Linked DNA regions of Homo sapiens. The protein of the gene in region 1 interacts with the protein of each later gene in a pairwise test. Each region holds a gene or a part of one and is shown on either strand. Other genes may lie near its edges.

The links. Proteins that work in one complex are often made in the same cells at the same time.
Region 2: the proteins of POLI (region 1) and ZBTB44 interact in binary tests that used the Homo sapiens proteins (3 or more experiments, as listed by UniProt).

The regions. Positions count from the first base shown.
Region 1 is NC_000018.10:54,293,511-54,298,757, reverse strand, and holds the end of POLI (DNA polymerase iota isoform a (long)), read right to left. Parts: intron 5,110-5,247; coding exon 4,291-5,109; 3' UTR 524-4,290; downstream 1-523. UniProt on the Homo sapiens protein: Error-prone DNA polymerase specifically involved in DNA repair. Plays an important role in translesion synthesis, where the normal high-fidelity DNA polymerases cannot proceed and DNA synthesis stalls. Favors Hoogsteen base-pairing in the active site.
Region 2 is NC_000011.10:130,311,892-130,319,035, forward strand, and holds the start of ZBTB44 (zinc finger and BTB domain-containing protein 44), read right to left. Parts: upstream 3,027-7,144; 5' UTR 2,484-3,026; exon of another isoform or gene 1,926-2,483; intron 1-1,925. UniProt on the Homo sapiens protein: May be involved in transcriptional regulation.

The sequences.
Region 1 (5,247 bases):
AATTAGCTGGGTGTGGTGGTAGGTGCCTGTAATCCCAGCTACTCGAGGCTGAGGCAGGAGAATCACTTGAACCCAGGAGATGGAGGTTGCAGTGAGTCAAGATCACACCTTTGCACTCCAACCTGGGCGACAGAGCGAGACCCCATCTCAAAAAAAAAAAAAAAAAAAAGATTCTGTAGTATAATTGGTCTGGTCTTCGTTCAGGGTTCCTGGACACCAAGCTCCTAAAACCCATGGAATTTCCTAAACAACAGAAGTGCCTTCATTATTCATGGTAAGCCCTGACACTGTATGCTAATGATGTGACCCACAGTGGGCCCTAGACAGCTAATGCTAAAAAGATGATTTAGGATGGAGGTAGCTCACTTCAAAAAAACAACCATGATTAGGGTGTTGAGACTTTGAGCCAGCCTGATGTCCAGACAGAGGAGGGAAACTGGAGATTAAGTTCAAGCACACAGTAAAGGTTTTAATAAATCATGCCTACGTAATGAAACCCCAAAGAAAACTCTGGACTTCTTGATTACTTGATATGTTTTATTTCTTGACTTGGACAGTTACATAGTTGTTACAATTACTCATTAACATGTTCATTTATGTTTATGTACCTTTCTATATACAGATTTTAAAATAGAAGTTTTTTTAATATTGAAAACAATCCAGATTTGATGGAAGACACAAATCTGCAGATTCATAATGAACCTAAATCCATGATAAATCTATAGCTAGACATATAATAAAAACTGCGTATCTCCAAAGTAAAAGATATTATCTTAGAACAGCTCAAGAGATGTCAGTTCTAAATCTACAGCTCTAAGGACATAATTTCAGAAGGTATAAAGAATTCTACCTAGAAGGAACATCTGACACACAAGAAAAAAGGTAAGCCCCCACCATGTCCCATCAAAAAAATAAACATTGACTATATAAAATACTAATAATATCCAATTTGGAGATTTAATAAAGAACTTGTGGAATTTAATTAGAATTAATGTTATTTCAATACCTTTGTGTTGTTTGGAAAGAGGGTAGCATTTTTAGATGTTTAAGGATAATCAAAAGGACTTGTAACATTCACATTCCAAATCAGTAAAGGGAAAATATATGATTAAATAGAAAACCCAACTGATCCCAAAAGATAGGAGGAGAGATAAAGGTGGGAAAGAAGCACAACATAGAAAAAGAAATATATTAAAAAATAAGATGGCAAAAAATAAATCCAAATAAATTTGTACTTTGGCACTACAGTGGAATAGATACTTTTTAGAGTTCTCCTAGTACAAAACACTAGATCTTGGAGAAAAGAGACCTCTTAATTCATTGCTGGTTTGTACCATATAAGGGAAATCTCCAGGCCTACACTCAAGACAGAAACCCCCTCTACACTATACACTCAAGAGAGAAACAGAAAAAATAAAAATAAAAATACCCTCTACATTCAAGACAGAAACAGGAAAAAAAAAAAACAACAACAAACTCGAGCTGAAACAAAAGCAAGAAAGCAGCAGAAAGCATCAAGCAAGAAGCAAGCTTGAAAGATGGGGTTTATCCCTGGAGGCAGATAGCTAACAGCATCTGCCTGTTAGTTTGGAATTGACCTGCAGAGACAAAACCTTCGGCTAGTAGTAAGGGTCAGGGAGCTTACACTTAAGACAAGGCATTCAATCAGGATCCACAAAGGTGAATAGAGTATGCCAAGGAGTTTGTACCACCTCACCCAGAGAAGCAACGAACTCAAATCATACTGAAGGAAAACATACACAATTTAGGCCCTCTGTCTTCTCGCAGATTAACACATACTCAAGGAAATAAGTCACAATGATATGCAATAATAACCTTAAATGTAGACTTATAAAGACTTAAAATATTGAAATTATCAAAAATATCATATATTTGACTTTTAAAAATTAGAAACAGACTTACAAGGGACTGTAATGAGTAAACGGGAAGTTAAAAAGAATCAAATGAAAAATATATTTATTGAAATTAAAACCATCATTGTTTTAAATAGCAGGTGAGATGCTACTGAAAAATGAACTAGTAAACAGAAAGATAGAGCTGATGAAATTACCCAAAATGCAGTAAAGAGAAACAAGAGGATGAAAAATATGAGAAATTAAGAGACATGAAGGATACAGTAAGAAAGTCTATCATTTGTATACAGTCCTAGAATAGAGAAGAAATATTTGAAGAGCTAGTGGTTGAGAATTTTACAGAACATGAATTAAAAGATACAGGAAGAAGCCAGTATATACTAAGAATAAAAATAAATTCGCACTTCCAAATAATACAGTAAACCTGCAAAGCACCAAAGAAAAAAGAGATAATCTTAAAAACAGAGAAAAAAGATCCCATAAAAAAGTTGATTCTGAGGCCCAAAGATGTTGAGACTAACTTAAAACCACAAAATAAGTAGCGTAACTGTGACATAGCCCGTACATTCTCAATCTATGAAATGTATTTTTAACTATTTTGCTTTCTCTTTTTAAGCTGGCCAAAACCATTTACTTTGTTTTCTTAGCCATTTTTTCTTAAGCCCCTTCTAGCTGTCCAAGGTCCTGAAATCATTACAAGGACTATAAAATGTTTTAATGATTTACAAAAAGTTATATACCCTTTTCATAAGTTTAATTACCTTACTGGAATACTCATGTAAAAAATACTATGTTCCTTGATTCAGAGTACTAAATATTTGCATGGTGAACAATTTCTGATGTTCTTGCTTCAAGTTACTGTTCCTGATAACCTCAAACTACCTATTTACAATCCTTCGTGTTAGCATATTTTCAAATTCCAAGGAATCCAAAACTAAGTTAAAATTTCAGAGCTGGGGCCAGGAGCAATGGCTCACACCTGTAATCCCAGCACTTTGGGAGGCCAAGGTGGAGGATCACCTGAGACCAGGAGTTCGAGACCAGCCTGGCCAATATGGTGAAATGTCATCTCTACTAAAAATACAAAAATTTGCTGGGTGTGGTAGGGCATGCGTGTAATCCCAGCTACTCAGGAGGCTGAGGCAGGAGAATTGCTTGAACCTGGGAGGCGGAGGTTGTAGTGAGCTGGGATTGCGCCACTGTACTCCACCCTGGGCGACAGAGTGAGACTCTGTCTCCAAAACAAAAAAAGAAAGAAAAGAAAATTTCAGACCTAGAAGAAAGTATTTTTAAGCTACTCTTTGGTTCATATTTGTGTACTTTATTTTTAAAGTCTCTTCTTTAGATTATATGTGCAAAAATTATAAACTTGAGACCAGGATACTCCCATATTGGTGCTGAGGGATACTTTAGTATATTCTATAAACATCCTCTATGTCTTGCAAATTATATAATACATTCTCAATCTTATATCCAATTTTTAGTTTAGCAGGCAAAAGAGGAAGGCAATAACAATGGGAGAAAGAGGACATCCACCAATTTAGTAATGGTCTATATTTGTGGTTGTTATGACAACCTAATATCATCTCCAAATGTAGGGAAGATACAAAAACATCTCAGTGCTTTTAGGCCCTTCAAACTAGCTAGAAAGAAATGGACTTCTTCCATTATCCAGTATGCTTATAGGCCCATCACCTTGCCTTTCTGGTGTCCATCTTTCCCTTAATTTACTTGCACGGAGAGTTCCTTCTACCACTGTTCTCTATAACATATACCCTCCTCTCACTTTAACTCCCCACCCTGGCCCTAGCCAAACCATTCATTCATTCAATGTTTATTGAACGGCCTTTGTGTGCTGTGTATTGTGGTAGATTCTTGGTGTATGAAGAAGCATTAATTGAATATAAATTGCTTTGGTATTTTAAAAGTCAACATACTAAATGTAATGTAGTACTTTAGTCAAAACTATCTATATTTTTAATAGGTTAGTTGGCAGTAGGATTTGCTATTCAGCCTAAGAGGCTGAATTTGAGATATTCCACATTTCACAGGAAAAAAAAAAAAAAAATGTGTCCTTTACCATATCATTGCAACGATTTGGCTATTTTTTATATATAAACATATACATCTCCCCACCAATTCATGAAAAATATTCTATGTTGACCATGATATTCTTTTTATTGAAAAGTAATATAAAATGGCTTTAGACATAAAAGATAGTATTTTACATTATTTCTTCTGTTATATTTTTACGCTTTGTGCCAGAATTTACTTCTTGCAACTATTCTTGCTTTATCTGGAACAGTTTACTCCGTTATTGAATATCTATTAGTGTTTAATATAGAAGAGCTTAATAAACCGCTAATCCGAAAATAATGGTATTCCCTTGCTTTTCAGACCTTTTTGCTGAATATGCTTATTTATGTCCAATGTGGAAATCTGATCCTGCTCTCTTCCACTCTGCCAGCAGTTCCTTTTGTACTGCTTCTGGTAGTTCATAGAAAACTTGAGGATCAATGTCAGAAGGGAAAGTAATTTTCTCATCAACAGAATCTGGCTCTCTATTTTCTGTAAGTCCTTCATGAGAGTCTGTTGCTACTGTTTGCTTATGGCTATCTGTAGTGTGGTTTCTGGAGAAAAGTTGCTCACTCTGCAAGTTTGGAAATGAATGAAAAGCAGACACAGCAGGGTTTGAATTTGTAAAGTGGAATCCTTGAGGTTCTTTAGGTCCTTGACTTATTCGTTCATCTTTTAATCTATTATCTAAATAATATGAATAATCCTTTTGGCTAGACATGTAAGAAGAACTACTGCTATTAAAGCCTGATGTTCCCGGTTCACAAGGAGATACAGAGGATACCTGTTTGCTACTGGATAAATGATCTCTAGGATTTATGGGAATATCTTGCATTTGTTTTTTAGAAAAGAAAGATAATACTCCTCTAGAGGCATGTAATGGACAACTCACACTTCCTTTCCCTTGAAATTTTTCCCTAGATTTTCCAGAAAGGATTTCTTCTTGAATATCTACTGGAAGCTGCTTGAAGACTTCTTGGTCAACACCTTCAGGAAGTGAACAGAGTGGGAATTCATTAATGTCTTTTTCTTTAGAAAAATTTGTGGTATCTAGTGGAGACTCCCTAGTTCTTGTACTTTCAATTCTTCCACTTGGTAGGAAATCCCGGTTTGTTTCTTTGTCTTTGGGAAAATCTTCCATATGAGTGTCTTTCATTTTCTAGAACACAAGAATAACAGACTAATTTACATATCTGATATCTTTTAAATATCGCTGCTGCTGCTGTGTGCCTGTAGCTATTATCTGACATGTTTCTAACCTACTCAACAAATACAACTCTTTGTGGCCAGTTCCAAA
Region 2 (7,144 bases), on another chromosome or scaffold:
TGAAATGGTTCCTACTGACCAAATCTGGGACAATTTGGTCATTAAAAAGAAAGACGACTGTAACTGGTTATAAAACAAGGAATAAATTAAAACCCATGAGAGTCTGAAGTGGTATCATTCACCCCTGCCCCAAAAAACATCATTGGGGGTGGCTATTTCTCCAGCTCTTTACTATGAATATTGAAAAGTAAAGAGATTAAATTTAACATTTAATTTGCATTTTGGGGAAGAACAATAGTTTACCTGCACTTAATGAAGGAAATCTCTTCCTTACAGAGAACCTCCAATAACTGATTTAAGCAAAAGTCATCATGGGTGCTAAAAACCACTAAGCAAAAGATTGTCAGAAACTGGGTATTTGCTTAGTGTCCAAGTTTTACCCCAAGATTACATATTAATCACAAACTGGCAAACCACACCTTTACAACAGATCAGTAGTCAGCACTTTAATCAAATGGTTACATTTAGCATCATTAATAGTGTGGGAATCTGACATTGTGTGCCTCCTATATTATGCAACAGGAGGTACACAGCATCACCTATTAAATATTCTTGCCAAAGGAAGTTTTACTTTAAGCTAATTAAGCCTTCCTTTACACCTAACTTCCAGTTAATAGGAAATTCAGGGAGAAAGAGGAATAAACGAAATGACATTAGGAGGGCACAAATCCAGAATGTGGGTATATTTTACAAGACAACTGGTTTGGTCAATTACGTGTCAGAAAAAAAGAAGGGAGGGAATATTCATCCTATTTAATTTCCCCTGCAAAAAGAAGAGGGGATGGATACTCTTCATTTTACAAAATGACTAAAGACTTAATCACCAAATGCAATCAATGCATGAATCTTGACTGACTACAACTGGGGGCAGAACCCTCAAAGACACTTTGGAACAACTGAGGAATTTTGAAGATGGAGTTGTTAATTTTGATAGGCATTAATAATGATACTGGGGTTAGTAGGAGAATGTCCCTATTTTTAGGAAACACATGCCGAAATATTTGAGGATTACAGTGTTTGCAGCTTACTTTCAAATAATTACACACATACAGAGAAAGACAGGAAACAATATGGCAAAAATGCTAATCACTGAGTTGGTTATTCATTGCATTGATTAGCATTTTTATTCATTGCATGAATAACCGATCACAATTGTATAGAACGAACCTCTATACGACTAAAATTTTTCATAACAAAGTTAATAAAATTGTACTTCTATTGAGAAGTACGGTAGAAAGTACACGAAAGTACATCTATACTGGAATTATATTTGGGTTGAAATCTAAACTATCTTACTAGTTGTGTGCCCTAAGGCAAGTTGTAATTCTTCGTATCACTAAGTTTGTCACTTCTATAAAATTCAAGTAATAATATCTGCATCATTAGGTTGTTCTGAGAATTAAATAATTACAAATGCAAAAATGCCAAGCAGTACTGCACAAAATGAATAATCTGGTTTTCATAATTAATCAGTACATTACTAATAATCCTAAAATACAAAACTAAAGGACTACGTTCATTATATTCACATTCTATGATAAGGGGAAACTACATTAGGTAAAATTATTATTAATCCACTGACAGTCCAAGTGAAGTAATGGGGGAAATGAAGATTTATACAGTATTTTTTAAACCCAAGAATTCCAACTGAACACCTAGAGAAAAGGAAATCAAAATCGTGCAGCTTGCTTCCGGTATCAGCCGATCTCCAAATAAAGCATTAAGAAAATAAGTGGAAGTTATGGAGAATTTCTTCCTGACTTCAAGAGATTATCTACTTACACGCTGAAAAAGAAATTAAGTTTTTGTCTTCATTTTTGTAAGTTCCAAAAAAAAGCACACAATTACGGGGTTTTATTGTAAATTCTGCTTGGATTCATAGAACTCACATGGACGCAATTTCCTTTTAATCAGTTCTAACGTACCTGTCATTTCTCGAGGTAACCCCTTTTTCTGATTAGGCCAGCAATAAAACGACTAGATGCAGAGTGATCCTCAGGAAGGAAAGGAAAAGAGGTGTGTGTGTGTGTGTATGTGTGTGTGTGTTTGTGTGTGTGTATATATATATATATATATTTTTTTAAAGAAGTGCCATCTTTTTCTTTCTGTACCAGAGAAAAAGCAGAAGGGGAAAGGAGGAAAAAAAACAGGTCTGAGCCTCCCGGGTTCGACCAGGTGAGAGGTGGCAACACTCCGGCCGCTCCGGGTTAGGGTGTTGGGCAAATGGGCGTGCAAAGGACGGGCAGCTCCCTGGAAGGTCGGGGTAACTGCTCCGGGACCGCGGGGCCCAAGGCCGGTCTCCTCCCAGAAGGATTAAATGCCACCGAGGGGATCCCGTGGGGTGTCTCCCGGCGCGGACTAGGCTGACAGACCCGGCTCTCCGCTCCCTTCGGCGCCAGGTGGGGGCCACGCGGTGTCAGCCACGGGCAGCGTGCAGGGGCCGTCCCCCGCGCGACCGGAGCCCGCCCTCCCCTCCCCGTTACCTGCGGGCGGCGGCGCCGGGCCCGGAGGCCTGCTGCTCCTCCTCCTTCTCCCGCCAGGCTGGGGCGGCGAGGCGGCGGCGGCGGCGGCCCGGGGGGAGGGGGCGGAGCGCGGCTCGCTGCCTCTCTCCTCCCCCGGGAGGCTCAGGGGCCCCTATCTCGGGCCGCCGCGCCTAGGCCCGTGAGCAGCCTGTGGTGGGGCATGGCGGCACAGCCACCGGCGTGCCCGCGAGTGGGAGTGCGAGGAGGCGGGGAGGGAAGCACCCCCAGCGCTCGGAGGGGCCAGAGGGGAGGAGCGAGGGGGCCCGGGAGCCGCGCGCTGGCGACCGTTGGGGACGGTTGGCCGAGGGCAGGCGGTTGTTTGGGGAGCGCGGCGACGGCTCGCGTGTTCCCAGCGGGGCGGGGTGGGGAAGGGGAAGGGGACTGAGGGGAGGGGAGGGGGAGGTTGGGAGGGAGCCGCCGCCGCGCGCGTGCGGCCGGCGCCGCCGCCGTTGCCGCTCCGCTCACTCCAGCCTGTTTGGGGGCACTTTGTTTGTGTCCCACAATGCTCTGCGCCGGCGGCCTGGCTGGGGAAGGGGAGGAGAAGGGGGCGGGGCGGAGCGCGCTCGGGGGCGGGGCTCGGGGCGGGGAAGGAAACGTGATGATTGCGCAAGCGCAGAAAATGGGCCCTCTTGGCCGTCGGGACTTGTACTGTTGGTGACTCCGTCTCCTTAGACGGTGGAGCCTGCGTGACCCAGAAAGGCCGTGAGTCTTGACACTGTATTTTTGCATATGTGCGCACATGTGCCGATTTACATTCACATGCCCCATAAGCCCTGTCCCATTTGTCCTTCCTCTAAGCCGTCCTCTTACCCAGTTCCCCTCTCACACCTGAGAAGCATTTCTCCGCAGGAGTCACATTTATAGCATTATTTTTTTCTTCGAACTAAAAACATAACTCCTATTTTCTCGGGTAGTTTTTGTAGGGAGGTCGAAATAGAAACACTTCAGCCCCTCTTCGGCGAGGGAGGTTAGTTGGTAAGGTGCCCATTGTTCACCCATGGAAACAGGCCTGCCAAGGGCCGCCCCGCAGACAGGTGAGCCCGCGCCCCCGTCCTGGGCGGACTGCGACATGCGGCGGGTGTCTGGATTGCGTGGCTCCTCGGGCCTCCTCGCAGTGCTTGCTCTCTTCCGTTCTAGCACTTGCCTCGGTGACCTGGCAGGACGTGCGGTTCTTGAGATGAGTGGAGAAACGGACTCCCAGGTCCCTCTCGTTCTTCCAACACAGGGACAGCTAGAGCTGCTCCAAAAATATACCCTACTTCTTCCACAACCGTGAATCTGTCATTTTTACTGCACCATCACTTACTTCCTGGCCTTCCCGGAGGAAGTGTGCGGGCCTCCCCGAAGTAACCGGTACCGCCCGGGGGGTTTTGAAGTTCTTGGTCAACTGCAAAATCAATCAACCTAGTTAACTCCTAGGGCCCTAAGTCTTGGCTTCCCCTGGCCAGGCGGGCGAGCGCTCTCCACACCGCCCCCGGAGGTCATAGGGGTTCCCGGGACTGCAGGCGGCAGCGCCCCAGGTGCCTGGGGGCGGGCGGGGTGCGGGCAGGTGCTCCTTGGGCGCTTTCTGTTTTCCCACGCCTCCAGTTTGCAAACCGAAAGACTTCTTTCCAGAGGGTTTTGTGCAAGGTGGGTGGACGTCCCGCTGAAGTAGAGTGGATTTTCCTTTTGAAACACTTGGCAACATCTCACATTAATTCACTCTGAGAGACAAGCAGCCAAGCACCTGAACACCCTGACACTTGCAATCTTCTTTAGGAATAAAGGCAATAAAAACAACTTCTGTTTTTATAGTCCTTCGCAGTTTCCAACAAGTTTTCAAGCATGTATAATGTTATCTAATCCTTACGGCAACTGTAATTCACAGGTTTTATCACAGGTTTCTATTATTATTCCCACTATCATTCTTATTATTCCCATTTCAGAGATGAGAAAAATCAGAAAGATGCGAACTAGGCCCAGAAACTTTTGCACTAAGTTTTGAAGAGGGGAAGGGAAAGAAGGCGGAATGCTTACCTGGGAGAGGACTGGCGGCCACAGAGCAGGGCTCAGGAAAGGGCATGAGCTGGGGCCCTGGTGAGGAATGTGTGAGAATGTATGTAGGTGGTAAGCAACTGGACAAGAATCAGGGTGGAAATGAAGTAGTCAAATCCTATCTACCTCTCCTAGTGCCTTTAACAGGATAGTCAATAAAAGACCATGAGGCAAGTCTTTTCTAAGTGCTTCTCCAGGGGCTGTGGTGGCAGCTCCTCAACTACTACACTGACACAAAAATTTGCTTTCCTTTGTAGTACAACTTGAAGTCAGGTAGAGGAATGCCTCTAGCTTTGTTATTTTTGCTCAGAATTGCCCTAGCTTTTCAGGGTCTTTTGTGGTTCCATACAAATTTTAGGATTTTTTTTTCTAGTTCTGTGATGAGTGTCATTGATATTTTGGTAGGGATTGTACTGTACCTGTAGGTGGCTTTGGGTAGTGTGGATATTTTAACAATATTAATTCTTTCAATTCATGAGCGTGAGATATCTTTCCTTTTTTTTTTTTTTTTTTTTTTGTTCTCTTCATTTTCTTTCATCAATGTGTACACTTTTCCGGGTAGAGATTTTTCACTTCCTTGCTTACATTTATTGCTAGGTATTTTATTTTGCTTTTTTGTAGCTATTGTGAATGAGATTGTTTTCTTGATTTCTTTTTCAGATTGATGGCTGTTAGCATATAGAAAATCAACTGTGCTGGGTGTGGTGGCTCACGCCTGTAATCCCAACACTTTGGGAGTCCAAGGCAGGCAGATCACGAGGTCAGGAGTTCAAGACCAGCCTGGCCAACATAGTGAAACCCCATCTCTACTAAAAATACAAAAAAGTTAGCTGGGAATGGTGGCACGCGCCCGTAGTCCCAGCTACTTGGGAGGCTGAGGTGGGGAATCACTTGAACCCAGGGGGTGGAGGTTACAGTGAGTCGAGATCGTGCCACTCCAGCCTGGCGACAGAGCAAGACTCCATCTCCAAAAAAAAAGAAAAGAAAAGAAAATCAATTGATTTTTGTATCCTTCAACTTAACTGAATTCGTTCATCAAAGTTCTGAGAGATGGAGTCTTTAGGTTTTTCTAAATATAAGAACAAGTCATCTGCAAACAAGGATAATTTGACTTCTTCCTTTCCAATTCAGTTGCCCTTTATTTCTTTCTCTTGCCTAATTGCTCAGGTGAGGACTTCCAGAAATATATTGAATAGGAGTGGTGAAAGTGGGTATCCTTGTCTTGTTCCAGATCTTAGTGGAAAGGCTTTCAATGTTTTCCTGTTCAGTGTGATATTAGCTGCGGGTTTGTCATATATGGCTTTTATCATTTAAAAACTTTTCTTCCCTTAGATTATTCCCTTGTCTCCTCTGCCTTTTCCACTTAAAAAATTTTTTTTTGGAGACAGGCTCTCATTGTGTTGTCCAAGAGTGCAGTGGTGCAATCACAGCTAAATACAGTCTCAAACTCCTGGGCACAAGCGTCCTCTGGCCTCAGCTTTCCAAATAGCTAGGACTACAAGTGCGCCACTGTGCCTGGCTAATTTTAAAAATTTTTTGTAGAGATGGGTCTTGCTATGTGAACTTGGGCTCAAGTGATCCTCCTGAAGTGCTGGGATTACAGGCATAAGCTACCATACCTGAGCCCTTTCCTGCTTTTCTTTCTCATTTAACATTTAAATATTTTATCATCCTTCCACTCCACCCCCACCTCAGGTCTGAAGAATTTATTAACGAACAAATGACCGTGAGGCCCTTCAGAGCTCAATGCTAGATGCTTGGAGAGGGTGTGAGAAAATCTCAAAGAAGATTAACTTTGCAGGAGCCCTCTTGTCTGCTTTGGCTCTGGGCAGGGTCAGTTTCTGTGGCTTCTGCAGCCTCCCACCTTTTTCCTTCTTGAGCTGGTAGAGACTTGCCTCTGGGTTGCTGGAATATACACACCTTTCTTTGACACTAGGTTAAATAATACTGCTGGGAGGATTTTGTGAAATCAGAATCCTGTACACAGGTGAAAAAAACAAATGTAGACAGTATGAGGAACCTTTAATTATTAACTTGGTGTGGATGATTCTGAGGAATTCAAATTCCAGGCAAATTCCAGGAGTTATATTTCAGCCACGAGCTCTTTGGGGGAATAAATTCTGCAAAAGATGGCACTTCCTTGTGGAAGACCATTATAACTGAATGGAAACTTAGTTATTTAGTCCAAAAGCATTAGCATTAAGGCATGAATCCTTTCTACCCGACCTTGCCTCCTTATTAGATTAGATTATACAACTACATATATAAAAAATTAATCTCACTCTCTTACCCTAAAATTTATACCTCTTCTAGTGTTCACATTTTACCATTCACCCAGTGAAGCAGGGTGACTTTGCTACTTTACTACTGTATCTCAATTCCAATCCATCAACAAGTCCTGTTGAATGTGTCCCTCTCCACTGCCACCGTCCTAAAATAAGATGATACTAGCTTGTGCCTGGAGAATTATAATACCACTCACGTGGTTTCCCAAATGCACTCTCCCTTTTCCTCATTCTCTACATGGTCGCCAGAGTTGCAATGCATAGCAGTGATGTCAGCCAACAATGGCTTCCTATTGCTCCCCG